Regions from separate parts of the Homo sapiens genome. Here region 2 is linked to region 1. Evidence: fine-mapped expression QTL. Tissue or cell type: transverse colon. Region 1 holds a variant in brackets; the other region holds the start of a gene. All regions are shown on one strand. Distances are between the middles of the regions.

Region 1 (8,060 bases):
GGGGCTCTACAGCTTCAAGCAGGCAGAAAGCGAACACTTCCTTCACTAGAGAATTAGTGGGCAGCTAAAGAAAAGGTGCTGCTGCAGATGTAGCCTCAGGTCCCCAGGATGCAGGCAAACACCCCATCTCCAGGGGCTCGGTCACAGTCCCAAGGCTAGGCTCCAGGAGAGGGAGACCGAAGTGGGAAAAGGGCAGGGCCTCCAGCAGCAACCAGCCCTCCAGCCCTGGGCTGCCTGATCCCTGGAGAGAGCCAGGATGTTTCTCAGGCTCCTCTTGCCCTGCTGTTGTGAGAAGGCAGTTACAGTCCTCAGAAGGGACGACTCCACAGTGGAGGTGTCTGGGTATGGGGTTCCTGCTGCCCTGATGGTATGATCTGGCTGGAGACGGTTCTGGGGCTCACTGCACCCACTCTAGGCCTGGAGAGGGAACAAGACAGGACGTCTGCAGAGCTGAGGAGCCACATGACTCCTGCCCTCCCATCCTCTGCCTTTTTCTCTTTCAGAACAAGGTGGTGACTGTGGATGGCGTGAGAGTGAAGCTGCAGGTGAGACCAGAGGCTGGAGTTGGGGAGGGAGGATGGAGGACCTGCCCTTCCTTCTCACCCTGAACCACAGGAGGCCTGCAGCCCTGCCCTCCGCCTGGGGCAATTTCCTGTGGGGCCCACGGGAGGAAATGGCTTTTGTTTATTTGACATCTGCAGAAAAAGCAGTTCCCAGGCACCCTCTCATCTATGAACAGCAGCTCCAAATGCCTTCAGACAAGCTTAGCCTCCATCCATCTCCTCCCCAGTTGCCAGGGCTTTATCTGCTCTTAGGAGATTGGACATCCCCAACCCCTGAGCTAGGGGAGAGGAGAAGATTCTTTTTTTTTCTTTTCTTTTCTTTTTTTTTTTGAGATGGAGTCTCGCTCTGTCGCCCAGGCTGGAGTGCAGTGGCACAATCTCGGCTCACTGCAACCTCTGCCTCCCAGGTTTAAGAGATTCTCCTGCCTCAGCCTCCTGAGTAGCTGAGACTACAGGTGCATGCCACCACACCTGGCTAATTTTTTGTATTTTTAGTAGAGACGGGGTTTCACTGTGTTAGCCAGGATGGTCTGGATCTCCTGACCTCGTGATCCGCCTGCCTCGGCCTCCCAAAGTGCTGGGATTACAGGTGTAAGCCACCGCGCTCGGCTGAGGAGATGATTTTGAACGAGCTTGAGAAATCAGTAACTGCTACTGTCCAGGTCATTGGATGCTCAGGGGCTCATGAGAACCTAAAGAAGAAAACAGCCCCACCTTCCCACAGATATCTCATACAACAAAGCAGGCCTGCTCCACCCAGCACATTCCTTGCACCTGCCTCCTTCTGACCATTTCTCCATCCCATCCCTTCCCAGATCTGGGACACCGCTGGGCAGGAACGGTTCCGAAGCGTCACCCATGCTTATTACAGAGATGCTCAGGGTGAGTCCCTCGCACCCTCCAACCCCTACCCCAGCCCCTTGGTAGCATCCGTGCTGCTGCCTAAGTCCCCTCTGTGATCCTCTCCCCTCCAGCCTTGCTTCTGCTGTATGACATCACCAACAAATCTTCTTTCGACAACATCAGGGTAGGTCCTCCCTTCCCCTGACTCCCACCCATAAGCAGCCAAGGCAAGGTCTATGCAGGCTGGGGTTGCTTCCTGCCCTGTGGAAAGCGGGTGGAGCGTGGAGTCCTCCTGCCTTCTGAAAAACACCTACTTGTGACTCAGAAGTCATATCTGCTGCTTTGTATTTGGTGGCCATGTGGGCATGAAGGCCAAGCAGGCTGTTGTGACCCTGTGCCACCTGCATAGCCCTCACTGTGATTCACGAGTGTGTTTCGTGACAAAGTGTTCAGAACAGCCCCCACTCCACCCTGGATAATTATCCACAGAGACCAAGGGAAAAACACAACCAGAAAAGTCCACACATACATCCAGGGCAAGTTGCAAGAAAGTGACTCAGTCAGACAGAGTGAGTGGTTGTATCCTCACAACCAAACTATTATAGAGACAAAAATTTGATAAATTCAAGCACCAATTTTGTTCACGACATTGTATAGGTTTCATGAATCCCCTGACCTCAAGGACAGTTTGCTGATAAGCAAACTAGGAGAATAAAACGTTTATATAGAAAGAGGAAAATCCATGGCACTCATACTCCTACCTCCAACCCCATGCTCATGGCAGACATCACTAATCAATCACAGTACTTTTGATCACTGAAACCCTTATGTGGTCTTAGAATCTTTAACAGGACACTCCAAGAAATCACTGCTGACAGCCAACTGATTTGTGAGATAAGGTCTCCATGCATCTGGATCTTCCATAGAACTGATAGTTGCACAGCATAAAATGGTGAGGGTGGGGCCATTGTGGGTTGAGCCACCAAGGAAGGCCATCCAGGCCTGGATGGGCCAGAACAAAGGTACAGATGAGAGAACGCACAGGGTATCGTGTTCAAGGTAGTGAGTAACTGAGGATAGTCAAACGGAGCAGAAGAAGAAAGGGGCAGCAGGAGGAAGAGAATGCCAGTCTCGCACGCCCTCTCCCACAGGCCTGGCTCACTGAGATTCATGAGTATGCCCAGAGGGACGTGGTGATCATGCTGCTAGGCAACAAGGTGAGTGGCTCCGGGGCAGGGTCAGCCCAGCCCTGCACTTCCTCAGCCCTAGCCGGCCCCATAACCACCCAAGAACAGTTATCTAGGCATCCTTCCTGAAAAGGACTCTGCAGCCTCCAGCTCAGGGGTCAGACATATCTGGAGGCTTCTGCCCATCCCATCTGCCCCTTCCAGGGAAAGTCCAAGTTGTTGCCTGAGAAATCAAGGGGTGCCCAGTTCTCAGCCCCCATTAGAGCAGAGTGAACAGGGTCCCAGGTCAGGGGCTAAGAGTGCAAAGGGTTAGCCCCAACTGCTGTCCTATTCCAAGACCCTTTACCAAAGGTGAGATCCCAGAGCTGGGAGCTACACTGGGCAGAAACCCTGGCCCCAGGCCAATCACACCTGCCTGCAGTCCCTTGGGCCACCAGCAGAGGGCAGGCAACGCCTGCTTCTGGGGCAAAATATGGGCCCGCTGGGGCGGAGGCCTCCTTCCCCAGAGTGACCCATTTGGGCTTGACAGGCGGATATGAGCAGCGAAAGAGTGATCCGTTCCGAAGACGGAGAGACCTTGGCCAGGGTAAGTGATTGTCTGTGGGACAGGGTGAAGGGTGGGGGCAACCCGACGCTGGCCCTGAGGACACTCTCTCCCGGGCAGGAGTACGGTGTTCCCTTCCTGGAGACCAGCGCCAAGACTGGCATGAATGTGGAGTTAGCCTTTCTGGCCATCGCCAAGTGAGAGC[T/TGGGCA]GGGCAGGGAAGGGAAGTGTGCGGGGCAGGGCGGCACACTCCAGGAATCCAGTAGGGCCCGGCCCCTGGCCCAGCCCCTGGACACACCTGCATTCTGCAGGCTGAGGTCCATTTGCTCTGGGAGCACTGGGCCACTGGGAGAGGGGAGGGGGCGGCTCAGCTCCTCACCCCAGCCCAGCCCAGCCCAGCCCAGCCCATTGTCTCTTCTTCAAGGGAACTGAAATACCGGGCCGGGCATCAGGCGGATGAGCCCAGCTTCCAGATCCGAGACTATGTAGAGTCCCAGAAGAAGCGCTCCAGCTGCTGCTCCTTCATGTGAATCCCAGGGGGCAGAGAGGAGGCTCTGGAGGCACACAGGATGCAGCCTTCCCCCTCCCAGGCCTGGCTTATTCCAAGAGGCTGAGCCAATGGGGAGAAAGATGGAGGACTCACTGCACAGCCGCTTCCTAGCAGGGAGCTATACTCCAACTCCTACTTGAGTTCCTGCGGTCTCCCCGCATCCACAGGGAGGGTAAAACACTTAGCTTTTATTTTAATAGTACATAATTTAATACCAAAAAAGGCGCCTGGATCCCCAAAAAACCGAGGCTGGGAGCTAGTGGCCCTTTTGCTTTCTAGGACTTGGGGGGCCGGCCCTCCCTCCTAAGCATAACAAAGGTGGTGTTGCTCCAGCTCAGCCCCAGGGGACACAGATGCACTTTGGGGGTGAGGGCAGGTAATGACTCCATCGCACCCTCAGTTCAGCTGGACAGAGGCTCAGGTGACCCCAGCCTTCACTGTCTCCCGCTCTCCAGGAGCTTATCTTCGCCCCATCTCCCAAATAAGTGGGCCCTTGTGCTGTGAGGAAGACCAAAGCCTCAGGGAAGATAAGAGATATGGAGATGGGAGGGGGAGGACAAGGGGCAGAGAGTAGGGTCTAGCTGGCTATCTCTGGCCTTACTAACACCCCCCTGGAGGCATGCCCCTTTTCTCCAGCACACAAGCACATTGGGGCACCTGGAAATATTGGTTCCAGGCTCCTGTTCTCTGGACTTCAGATCCTGGGGGAGCCCCTCCCCCCCCTGAATCCCTGGCTTAGCTACCTTCCTGCCTGTGCACCTAAAAACCTCAGGTCAGAACTAGGAAAAGAGTTTTGTTTTTATTTTTTTGAAATGGAGTCTCGTTCTGTCGCCCAGGCTGAGGTGCAGTAGTGCAATCTCCGCTCACTACAACCTCCACTCCCTGGGGCTCAAGCGATCCTCCCACCTCAGCCGCCGAAGTAGCTGGGACTATAGGTGTGTACCATCACACCTGGCTAATTTTTGTATTTTTTGTAGACACAGGGTTTCGCCATGTTGCCCAGGCTGGTCTTGAATTCCTGAGCTCAAGCAACCTGCCGGCCTCGGCCTCCCAAAGTACTGGGATTACACGCAGAAGGCACCATGCCCAGGCTAGATGTGTCTTATCCCAATCCTTTGGCAGGCATGCAGCTCCACAGGCGATTTCTTCAAGCAGCTGAAGTGTTTAGCCCTCCTGGGTTAAGAGCCAGATAAGGAGAAATCCCTTTCCTAGGTTTGGAATGTGTTGTGAAAAAAAAGAGAAATCCCTGGCTCCTGGAGCTGGTGGGAGACAAGATTAAGCAAACCTCCCCTGACATGTATCCCTTTGACCCCAAGCTCTGCCTCCTCCCTGACCACCCATGCCCTTTCCTTTAACTTCTCAAACAGATACCAGGGCCTAAACTGCTTTACCTCCCCTCCTACTGAGTCAGGTTAGGTGGTGGGAGGTCACCCATTTCCGAGTTAAACCAATGCAATATGAGTAAAACAAAGTCATGTGGGTATGTCTGGGGTAGAGAGAGGGGTAGCAAGTTCATGTGTCCTCCTTGGTCACATATCTCCCAAAGCTCCGATCCCTGCCATGGGAAGTGGACAGGAAACATGAGGTCATGACCTGCAGGCATCTTTACTGCAGCTCTGCCGGCCTGGAGGGGGAGAGGGGGAGGAAGAAGTATGCGCTGCACATTTCTGAGGCTACTGCATTTGCTTTCAAGGCAGAAATCTTGCTCTGAGCAGTCAGCGGCTCCAGTTTGGGCCCGATAAGGAAGTTCTCCGTGGCCTCCCTCAGGCAGAGCAGGGAGGAGGCTGACATTGCCAGTCTCTTCTGGGGCCCAAGGCAGGTTGCAGGAGATCCAATCCCATAGACAGCTCTGGGCCTCTTGCATTTGAGTTTTTCAGAATTAAACTGCAGTATTTTGGAAAGCACATCCTGTCCACTGTTTCTTTGAAGTGAGTGGGGGGGGGGGGTCTTGTTGAAGGAATTGTCATTCACTGCCAAAATCATTCCATCCTCCTTCCTCAGTGTCTGTCCTCAGATGGTCAGCTCCCCGCTCAACAGACTGTCTCCCGCCTCTGTGACCAGCCTCTCTTTGGCAAGAGGGAGCTAGAAGGCTTTACAGTCCTAATCATTTTTCTGTTGGAAAAAAAAAAAAAAAACCAAGGCTCCTTTCCCTGTGGCGTGTACCCAGAGGTTGATTACCTGAGTCTGTCCTGCCTCTCCCCACCCCACCTCCCTAGCCAAACGCTGCTGCCAAAGCCCACGCTATTGCCCTAGATGGCCTGTCTTCAGCGGGCTGCCCCTCGAGGTCCCAGGCTCTCCGCGGAGCCCTCACCTTCCCAGCAGGGATCAGAACCTGCACTCCTCTATGCGAGTCCTGGGACAGCACAAAGTGGATTAGGGTTAGGGTTCCCACAAACGGAAAAATGTTATTCAAACAACTCTGTAGGGTCCGAGGAGGCCCTCCGTCTTAATTCTCGAGACTGACCGGCCCTCGCTGCCCCGAGCGGGAGCAGTTGCCCCGGCAACAGCCGCTCCCTCTCAACTGGAGCTGCACCCAGGCTTTGGCTAAAGGCTGTTAAAACGTTGGCCAGGTGCGGTGGCTCACGTCTGTAATCCCAGGGCGGATCACCTGAGGTCAGGAGTTTGAAACCATCCTGGCCAACATGGCGAAATTTCGTCTCTACTAAAAATACAAAAATTAGCGGGGCGTGGTGGTGCGCGCCTGTAACCCCAGCTGCTCGGGAGGCTGAGGCAGGGGAATCGCTTGAACCCGGGAGGCGGAGGTTGCAGTGATCCGAGATCGCGCCACGGCAGTCCAGCCTGGGCGACAGAGCGAGACTCCGTCTCAAAAAAAAAAAAAAAAGTTAGGGTCCTTTACCCGAGGGCCGGCTTTCCTCACTCCCCGCCACAGGTAGGGGAAACCAGGCCGGAGCCGGCGGGCCCACCCGCCCAGAACCGGGAATTCGGCGAGCCCCGCCCCTGCCACCCCAGCGCCGGCCGCTCGGTAACAAACACTTCCACTTCCTGAGCGCTAGTCTTCGCCCGCCGCGGGGCGCCGCGCCGAGCGCAGGCCCCGCCCCGCGCGTTCCCAATGGCCGGCGCCGTTCACCCGGCCGGAGCGCCCAGGCCTGCAGCCCCCTATTGGCCCGCGGAGGTCCCCACCCTCAGCGCGGCCCCGCCCCCGGGGTAAGGAGCCGGGGCGGACTCTGGGACGCTCAGACGCCGCGCGGGGCGGGGATTGGTCTGTGGTCCTCTCTCGGCTCCTCGCGGCTCGCGGCGGCCGACGGTTCCTGGGACACCTGCTTGCTTGGCCCGTCCGGCGGCTCAGGGCTTCTCTGCTGCGCTCCCGGTTCGCTGGACGGGAAGAAGGGCTGGGCCGTCCCGTCCCGTCCCCATCGGAACCCCAAGTCGCGCCGCTGACCCGTCGCAGGGCGAGATGAGCGCGGACGCAGCGGCCGGGGCGCCCCTGCCCCGGCTCTGCTGCCTGGAGAAGGGTCCGAACGGCTACGGCTTCCACCTGCACGGGGAGAAGGGCAAGTTGGGCCAGTACATCCGGCTGGTGGAGCCCGGCTCGCCGGCCGAGAAGGCGGGGCTGCTGGCGGGGGACCGGCTGGTGGAGGTGAACGGCGAAAACGTGGAGAAGGAGACCCACCAGCAGGTGGTGAGCCGCATCCGCGCCGCACTCAACGCCGTGCGCCTGCTGGTGGTCGACCCCGAGACGGACGAGCAGCTGCAGAAGCTCGGCGTCCAGGTCCGAGAGGAGCTGCTGCGCGCCCAGGAAGCGCCGGGGCAGGCCGAGCCGCCGGCCGCCGCCGAGGTGCAGGGGGCTGGCAACGAAAATGAGCCTCGCGAGGCCGACAAGAGCCACCCGGAGCAGGTAAGCGGGGCCCAAGCCGCGCAGGCTGGCATGGAGTGGGAGGAGGATCCGGAGAGACCCAGGTGCCCCGGCCGTCCAGCCCCGCGCCCGCCGTCGTTTTTCTGAAACTCGAGCTGCGAGGGGGAGACCGCTTCCGCCCGCCGACCAGGCGCCCTGACACATCCTAGGCAGGCCTGGGGCTGCGTCCCGCGACCTCCTCTCCTTCCCAGGCTGTGCTGGGAGCTTGAGCGCCTTTGCCGCCTGCACCTCTTGTTCCCTGGCCTTTGGGAGGGCGGCGCAGGGGAACCCAGCCCCCTTCCCTCGGGTCTGTGGGTGTCTGCTCCCGTTCCTCGGAATCCCCCAATCCTGCTCCTTCCCTGGTGCCCTCTCCTCGTTCACCCCAGTCCGCAGATGGGCCGGGGAGAAAGGGCTCTCCGCCCCAGAGGTGCCAGCTTCGCCCGCCACTCCTACTTCAAAAGCTAGAGGAATAGCATTACTCCTCCTGTGTGGAGCCCCGGCGCGAGGAGGCCCTCTCCGCAGCCCG
Region 2 (8,060 bases), 150 kb after region 1:
CCCACACTTGGAACTGGACCCTCCCCAGAGGGTAGCTGGAGGGCACCTGTGGGATGAAAAAATCAAGACGCATCCCACGTAGGTCAGTCGGAGGCTTGAGTAATAAACTACTCGGGCCCTGTTCCTCAGCCCACTGCAGTCCACCAGGCAGGTGTCACGACATGAAGCGGGAGCCAAGCCTTTCCTCCCCAGCTTCGAGGGGGCTTGCAGGCCTGAACCTGGTTCCCTAGACAACTGCAGGGTCATCGTCAGCAAATATTGATGGAAGAATATTGCCAAGAGCTCAAGTCTGTGCCAGGAGCTGAAGAGTCAAAGAGGCAAAGATGAAGCCACTGGGCTTACGGGGACAAGACAGCATTCACAAGCAGAATGCAGCACTGAGGCTATCTGGGTATCTCAAGCGTGCTGGGTTTCCGGTGGAGCGCTCCAGTAGAGAAGCCCAGGAAGGCTTCTCAGAGGAGGCGTCCTTGGCCTCCTGCATTCATTTGGCACACATGATAGCTATGGTGTGGGTGTAACACTTTGGTGGGTATCAGATTCACCTGTGGAACTTGGTAAAAACACAGTGGCCCGAGTCCTCTTCTCCAGCAAGCCTGGGCCTCCAGATCATTCTGCTACACACCGAAGTTTGAGAACCACTAGGTTACCTCTGTGCAATAAATGCCTTGCAGCCAAGCAGTCCCAAAGCCTCAGTACCTGCTCCTCATCCTCAGCTGCCTCTAGGCTCCTGGTACTCAGTACAGCTTTTTTCTTTTTGATTTTTTTTTTTTTTTTTTTGAGACAGAGTCTTGATCTGTCTCAGCCTCCTGAGTAGCTGGGATTACAGGTGCGTGCCACCATGCCCGGCTAATTTTTGTACTTTTAGTAGAGATCAGGTTTCACCACGTTGGTCATGCTGGTCTCAAACTCCTGACCTCAGGCGATCCACCTGCCTCGGCCTCCCAAAGTGCTGGGATTACAGGTGTGAGCCACCGCGCGCAGCCTCAGTACAGCTTTTTTAAAAATCCAAACATAGCTCATTCTGCCCCTGTGACCCAGCATTATGACACAGTCCATGTCACCAGCACAGCCCAATGTCTCCCTTGCCTCTCTGTGGATTACAAACTTGGCGGGCAGCTGACCCAGACTCCAGAGCCTGGCCCGTGTCTTAGAGTCTGGCCGGGACTAATGCTCAGGGCTCCGTGGGAAAGGAATTGTCTTGAAATTGACCCTGAGGATCAGAAGCCTGTCAGTTCCTCTTGTCTTCAGCACTTTGATGTGTGTGCTGGTGAGAGGGGCAGGGGAGGGGAAGAAGCAGGGGATAGTGCTAGGTGAGAAATGCTTCATCCACTCAGCTGAGTGGATAGTGATGATATATGTGTGTGTAGACAGTTATATAAAGTTATATAACTTTATAAAAACTTAATAATTGAGTTAATTGGTCACAACGACCAGTCCTTCCAGAAAAGAACTGTTTCTGGTCCCAGCTTTCCTATTTATTCATAAGGTGTGGCCATTCATTTATTTAGGGGAACCATCACCTGGGTGACCAGGCGACGGTCCCCCTGGAAAGGAGGAGGGAGCAAGTTCAGCAGAGGAACTGGGGAGGCCTGGAGACCAGTCAAGAGAGAAAGACAAGCTGGTCGAAACTTTTGCCTTCCTGGGCGTGCCCGAAGGTAAGAAGGCCAAGGTCGAACTGGGAAGGGGTGGAAGAAGGGAGGGCAAGGGTCAGGTGAGGTGGGTACTTCCTGGAGCTGACCCCGGGGAGCAGGGGGCTTCTCAGGAAGGCTAGGCCATGGCCAGGCATCAGAGGAGCATCATCCGGAGTAAGGACGCTGCCCCTTGTGGACACTGGGCCCCTCCTCCCCCTCCCTTTCTGTCTGTGGGTCACATTTTAAACCCTGACTGCAAAATCTGGAGGCCCCACTGGTTGTAACTGTGGGCCAAGACAGCGGCATACTCATCCTACAACTCTCTACCCATGGGGTGCAAAGACCCGCTCAAGGGCTTGGAGAAGTCCTCAGACACGCTGTAGTGCATACTGCACCAGTGGACCGGCATACCATCAGCTGCAGCGGCCTGCCCCCGTGGGCACATGCACAGCTGGACACACCCGCATGCTCGAACAGAAGAATGAGGCTGCCACACGGTCCCAGCAGCTGCCTGCATCCTCCTTCTCCCAGGCTCACCTCCACAAAGAAAAGCAGCCAGATCTTGCTCCAGCGTTTGGACTCGGTGAGGGCCCCATGAGTGGCCAGGTGGCTGCCCTTGACAGTGAGTGTGTAGTGGCACACACCCAAGATGGTGATGCCGGATGCAAAGACCAGGGCATTCTCCCAGCGCAGGCACAGGAAGCCTGCGTGGAGAGGAGGAAGAAGACGGGTCTTTCTCTAGCTCTGGGTGATCTGGGCCCAAATACCTCAACCCTTACCCTGGGAGCCCAGGCTAAAGTGGGCTAGGCTCTGGGGGCTGCCACTGGCCGGAGTGAGGCAGGTCCCACTGTGGCCTGAGGGGAACCAGGACTGCCCCTCCAGCGGTCCTGACTCTCCCGTGCCTGGTCCTGACTCTCCAGTGCGTGGTCCTGGGCCCCCAGCCAAAGCAATGTTGGGGCCTCAGGTACCATGGGTGTTCCAGACCAGGAAGGGTCCAGGGGAAACTCCCACCCCCTCCCCACTCACCTAGGTCCCCAAAGAACACCGTCTCCCTTCCCGGGGGTGGGGGGGCACCTCATCACTCCCGGCCACTCCCCCGCTCCTCTCAACTTTCCCTTCCACCACCCTCCTGCGCCCCCTCCTAGGGTACACAGGGCAGAACACCCCAGTCCAGACTCTCAGGTTCGGGGTGTGACCCTCCATCCTTGGGTGCGGGGCCCCGACCACCTCCGCCTCCCTGCCGCCGCCAGTCCACTCCGCAGGCTGCACTCCCACGGCTGCTGTTGCAGACCCCGCGCCGCCACCTCCGCCGCACCCCGCCCCCACCCGCAGCCCGGCCGGGACGCCGGGTCCCCGCGTTCCTCACCTGCCGGCAAGGCGAAGAGGCTGAGCGCGAGGATGGCGCAGTCCACGCCGTGGCGCTCCCACCAGGAGCTCGTCCTCACCACGTCCTGCACCAGCACCTCCAGCTCCCGCAGCAGCGCCTCGCCCCCACGGTGCGCGCTCCGCGCCGGTTCCATGGGCTCCGTAGGTTCCATGGGCTCCGTAGGTTCCATGGGCTCCGTAGGTTCCATGGGCTCCGTAGGTTCCATCGGCTCCGTGGGTTCCATGGACTCTGTGGGCTCGGGCCCGACGCGCACGGAGGACTGGAGGACTGGGGCGTGTGTCTGCGGTGCAGGCGAGGCGGGGCGGGCCGGGGCGGAGTCACGCGCCGCCTGGGGACACCCGCCCCCGGGGTCAAGGTGCGAGACACCCTGGCTCCTCTGCTGCGGGCGCTGGCGACCCAGGCCCGGCTCAGGCGCGCGACCCTGGCAGGCGGCATCAGAACCGCCGCGGAGGGAGGAGCCAGGCCGATGAGCTGAGAGTGGCTAGGCGGGGAGGCGACCCTGCGGTGAGACCCAGCCCAGGTAGTAGGGACGGAGGCGTCAGGGGCACGGAGACCCCAGTGGAGACACCCCCCACCCCCGCCCCGCCCCGAGGGCCTTCCCTGACCTCCGACCTCAAATAACTCCCTGAGTTCCCTCGGTCCCTGAGATCTGTCCGAGCATTCTCTTCCCTCGACCCTGACTATTCGTAGTGGCACTGAGCAGCTCCCCTCGTACGTGACACACATGACACATGCTGTCGTCTGTCTCTGCCAACAGACGGACCCTCAGTGCCGTAGAGACGTCCTCGTTTTGCCCAAGCTCTGTCTTCAGTACCTAGGGCAATGCTTGGCACAGAAACATCTGGGAATTCCTAGGGCAGAAAGTTCAAGGACTCCCCACTCCCCCTCCCCGTGGGTCAAGGAGTGAGAGGTCCCCTCTGAGTATGGCTTCAGCAGAGGTGACCCAGGGGAGCTGGCTCTTCAGCCCAATAATGTTTTGGGTGAGACGGGTAGCTACAGGGAATACACATCCGGAGGTCATCATTCTGGGTGGGCAGGCAGACCAGCCGGGTCCCGCTGCCATTCCACTCCCTCAAGAGCGCCCAGGCCTGAACCCAGGGCCAGGGCCTCAGCCAAGCCCTCTGAGATGTGGGAGCCACACCTGTCACATCCCCTTCCCATCAGCCCAGGCCCCCACCCCGCACTGCTGGAGATGGCCTTGGTCCTCAGGGGATAAGCCTCTGTCCTCTACAAACTCCTCTTCCCTGCTTCTGAATACCCTTTCTCTTTTCTTTTTTGTTTTACTTACTCCCAGTTTCATGACTTAAGGGATCTGGTATGGTGAGGACAGTGGCATCTTTAGCAGGAGACCCCTAGGAAAGAGAAGTTGGGTGGGTGGGGTAAGGGAGAGACAGTCAGGGATCCTAATGACATTGATTCCTTTTGACTCCTTCCTGGTGTTTTCCTTCAGGAATTCTTTTTTTTCTCTCTTTGTTTAGAAACAGGGTCTCGCTCTATCACTCAGGCTGGAGTGCAGTGGCACAATCACAGCTCACTGCAGCCTCGATTTCCTAGGCTCAAGTGATCCTCCCCCTCAGCCTCCTGAGTAGCTTGGGACTACAGGCACACACGGGGACCACTAAGCCTGGCTAATCATGAATTCGTATGAGCTTATTCCTTTAATTCTTTATCAAAGAATAAGATTTATTTACCAGCTCAGTATTCTAAGGGACTGACAATTTAATAAACCAATTCTCACCAAGTGCACGTGCGCATATACCTGCCCCGCAGGTTATCATTGACTTTCACATACTGATGAGGTTTTGTGGATTCCCCACATCCCTCAAGGATGGCATCATCTAAGGCCAGGCGCGGTGGCTCACACCTGTAATCCCAGCACTTTGGGAGGCCAAGACAGGCAGATCACTTGAGGTCAGGAGTTCGAGACCTGCCTGGCCAACATGGTGAAACCCCGGCTCTACTGAAAATACAAAAATTAGCTGGACGTGGTGGCAGGAGCCTGTAATACAAGCTATTCGGGAGACTGAGGCAGAAGACTCGCTTGAAACCAGGAGGCAGAGGTTGCAGTGAGCCAAGTTCGCACCATTGCACTCCAGCTTGGGGGACAAGAGCAAAACTCCATCTACAAAAAAAAAAAAAAAAATAGGATGGCCTCATCTTCATTTAATCAACGGAGGCCCCAAGAGATGAACTGATCCGCCCAGCACTCCACAGTTAGTAAATGGCAGAATTAGAGCTGAATCCAGGAGCTTCTCCAAATGCAATGGTTTCCATGAGAGATTTTCTTTTTTTTTTTTTTTTGAGACAGAGCCTCGCTCTATCACTAGGCTGGAGTGCAGTGGCGCGATCTCCACTCACTGCAACCTCCAACTCCCTGGTTCAAGTGATTCTCCTGCCTCAGCCTCCCGAGTAGCTGGGATTACAGGCACGCACCACCACACCCAGCTAATTTTTGTATTTTTAGTAGAGACAGGGTTTCACTATGTCAGCCAGGATGGTCTCAATATCCTGACCTCGTGATCCACCCGCCTCGGCTTCCCAAAGTGCTGAGATTATAGGCATGAGCCACCATCTTAAGAGATTCTTAAGACAGATAAGGAAGAGTCGCCCTCCTCCCTCCCTTTCCCACTCTACCGTCAAATCCCTCCCTCTCTAGCATACTACAATTTTCAAGGAGGGGATATGTATAATTTGTAAAAGCATATGTGATATTAATATCCCATATTTTAAGCTTATAAGGAGATGTTATCATTTTTATCATATATGCCAGGAACTTCCTGGCACCAAGAAGCTCCTCTCCAGGCCCTGGCTCCCTCCTGGACATCCAAGTGGTACTGGACAGAGGTAAATGCTGAGCGCCAGAGGAAAGAACATGTTTCAGAGGAGCTCAGAGGAACAGGGATCCCTGTGGGGTAGGGCTGGCTGGTAGCCTCCCAAGAGAGAGGCAGACTTGATTTAGAACAGACTTAGCATGGTGGCTCACAACTATAATCCCAACACTCTGGAAGGCTGAGGTTCAAGGATCGCTTGAGCCCAGGAGTTGGAGGCTGCAGTGAGCGATGATTGCATTCCAGCCTGCACGACAGAGCAAGACCTTGTCTTAAAACAACAATGACAATAACAGCAAACAGACTACTTAAACCTCAGAGAGAAGGAAGAGAACCAAGTATTCTGGGTCCTCAAGGCATGGGCCAGGAGTAGAGTTTGAGAGATTGGTGGGAAAGGCAAGGGAAGGCAGGAAAGAAAGGCTGGGACCACGGGCTGGAGTGCCACAAAGGCAGACTGAGAAGCTGAGGTTTGTCCTCACAGGCATGGGAGCCATAGGAAGTTTCAGGGCAGTGGAGTGACTTGTGCAATGCTGTGTTCAGGAAGGTTTGTCTGGCACAATGGAGTAGCCACTGGAGTGAGGGGGACCGGAGTGAGGGGGACCAGTTTAGAGACGTTCCAGTCCCCCAAACATAAAGGTGCTAAGGGTGCAGATAGCAGAGGGAGGGACTGTGGAAATGATGATGGGGGTAACAAAATAAGGAAGAATTGAATAGACAGTTTACCAAAGAAGATATGCAAATGGCCAAGAAGCATGTGAAAAGATGCTCCCCATCATTAGTTTTTAGGGAAATGCTAATTTGAACACCAATAAGATAACCCTGCAGACCCACTAGAATGGCCAAAATTAAATAGACAAGGAAGGCTGGGCATGGTGGCTCACGCCCGTAATCCCAGCACTTTGGGAGGCCGAGGCAAGCAGATCACCTGAGGTCAGGAGTTCAAGACCAACCTGGCCAACATGGGGAAACCCCATCTCTACTAACAATACAAAAATTAGCTGGGTATGGTGGCATGTGCCTGTAATCCCGGCTACTCTGGAGGCTGAGGCAGGAGAATCGCTTGAACCCGGGAGGTGGAGGTTGCAGTGAGCTGAGATCGCACCACTGTACTCCAGCCTGGGTGCCAGAGTGAGACTCCGTTTCAAAAAAAAAAAAAAAGAAAAGAAAAAAGAAAAGAGTTTTATTTAAGTTGAACACATGCATATCCTAGATATATACTCAACAGAAAAGCAAAGAAACATACACAAATATTCATAGCAGCACTACTCAAAAGATAACAACTGGGCACAATGCAATTTTCTGCCAGCAGTGGAATAAATCAATAAACGGCGATGGGGGGATTACCACACAGCCCAAATCCAATGCCGAACAAATGGAAACCAGACACAAAACACCGATCAGATGATCCCATGTGTATAAAGTTCAAAAACAGACAAAATGAATCTATGGCATTAGAAGTTAGGATGGCTTTAACTGATTAGGGATAGTGACTAGAAGGGGGCATGAGGGGGTTCTCCAGAGGCTGATAAATGTTTTGTTTCTTAAACTGGGTTCTAGTTACCCTTGAGTGTTCAGTTTGTAACACTTCATCATGCTATACTGTTAGAGTATGTGCATTTTCCTGTCTAGGTGTTATATTTTAATTACAACAATTTTATATTTTCAAATGGTAATCACTTTTCTTTATTTTCTTTATTTATTTTGAGATGGAGGCTCATTCTGTCACCCAGGCTGGAGTGCAGTGGTGCAATCTCGGCTCACTGCAACCTCCATCTCCCAGGTTCAAGTGATTCTCCTGCCTCAGCCTCCCTCAGCAGCTGGGATTACAGGCATGTGCCACCACACCCAGCTAACTTTTTTGTATTTCTATTAGAGATGGGATTTCACCATGATGGCCAGGCTGGCCTCAAACTCCTGACCTCAAATGATTTGCCCACCTCGGCCTCCCAAAGTGCTGAGATTACAGGCGTGAGCTACCTTGCCCAGTTGGTAATTGGTTTTTGTAGAGGTATAAATCAGAAGGTAAAATCACCCCTAAACCCAGGACAGTGGAGCGGGGGAAGGCAGGGCGGGGCTGGCCTGTGGGTTCCCTTGGCCATGGGGTCGGCATGAGTGTGGGTGGGTGGTAGAGCGGCCAACCTACCCCTGCCAGCTGCCCCCAGAGTCTGAGTGACACCCCTCAACTCCTCCCTATCCCTCTCTGTCATCTTGCCT

Which allele goes with the higher level. Positions count from the first base shown, and alleles are read on the strand shown. Sizes are in standard deviations (SD) of each study's normalised expression.
As copies of T replace TGGGCA in region 1, the expression in transverse colon of the gene that starts at base 3,279 in region 2 goes up (moderate effect, 0.69 SD a copy in GTEx).

Evidence for each region. PIP is the estimated chance that this variant, and not a neighbour inherited with it, causes the effect.
Region 2: it holds the start of FADS6, and the variant in region 1 is fine-mapped to the expression of FADS6 in transverse colon (GTEx, PIP 0.99).

What each region holds. Positions count from the first base shown.
Region 1 is chr17:74,741,751-74,749,810 of GRCh38, forward strand. RAB37 (RAB37, member RAS oncogene family) reads left to right here. Exons shown (of 9, transcript NM_001006638.3): 3 at 504-545; 4 at 1,379-1,445; 5 at 1,538-1,590; 6 at 2,558-2,623; 7 at 3,123-3,179; 8 at 3,258-3,334; 9 at 3,556-5,585. The coding sequence ends at 3,661. NHERF1 (NHERF family PDZ scaffold protein 1) reads left to right here and starts at 6,878. Exons shown (of 6, transcript NM_004252.5): 1 at 6,878-7,537. The coding sequence starts at 7,097. It overlaps SLC9A3R1-AS1 (SLC9A3R1 antisense RNA 1), which reads right to left. Exons shown (of 3, transcript NR_187307.1): 1 at 7,313-8,060; 2 at 6,823-7,177; 3 at 3,850-5,793. MIR3615 (microRNA 3615) reads left to right here and starts at 6,863; the gene lies at 6,863-6,949. RefSeq lists enhancers at 802-951, 5,432-6,027, 7,316-7,941 and a silencer at 6,422-7,111. The variant T/TGGGCA (reference allele first, on the strand shown) is at 3,343.
Region 2 is chr17:74,890,355-74,898,414 of GRCh38, forward strand. It overlaps FADS6 (fatty acid desaturase 6), which reads right to left and starts at 3,279. Exons shown (of 6, transcript NM_178128.6): 1 at 2,998-3,279; 2 at 2,169-2,335. The coding sequence starts at 3,241.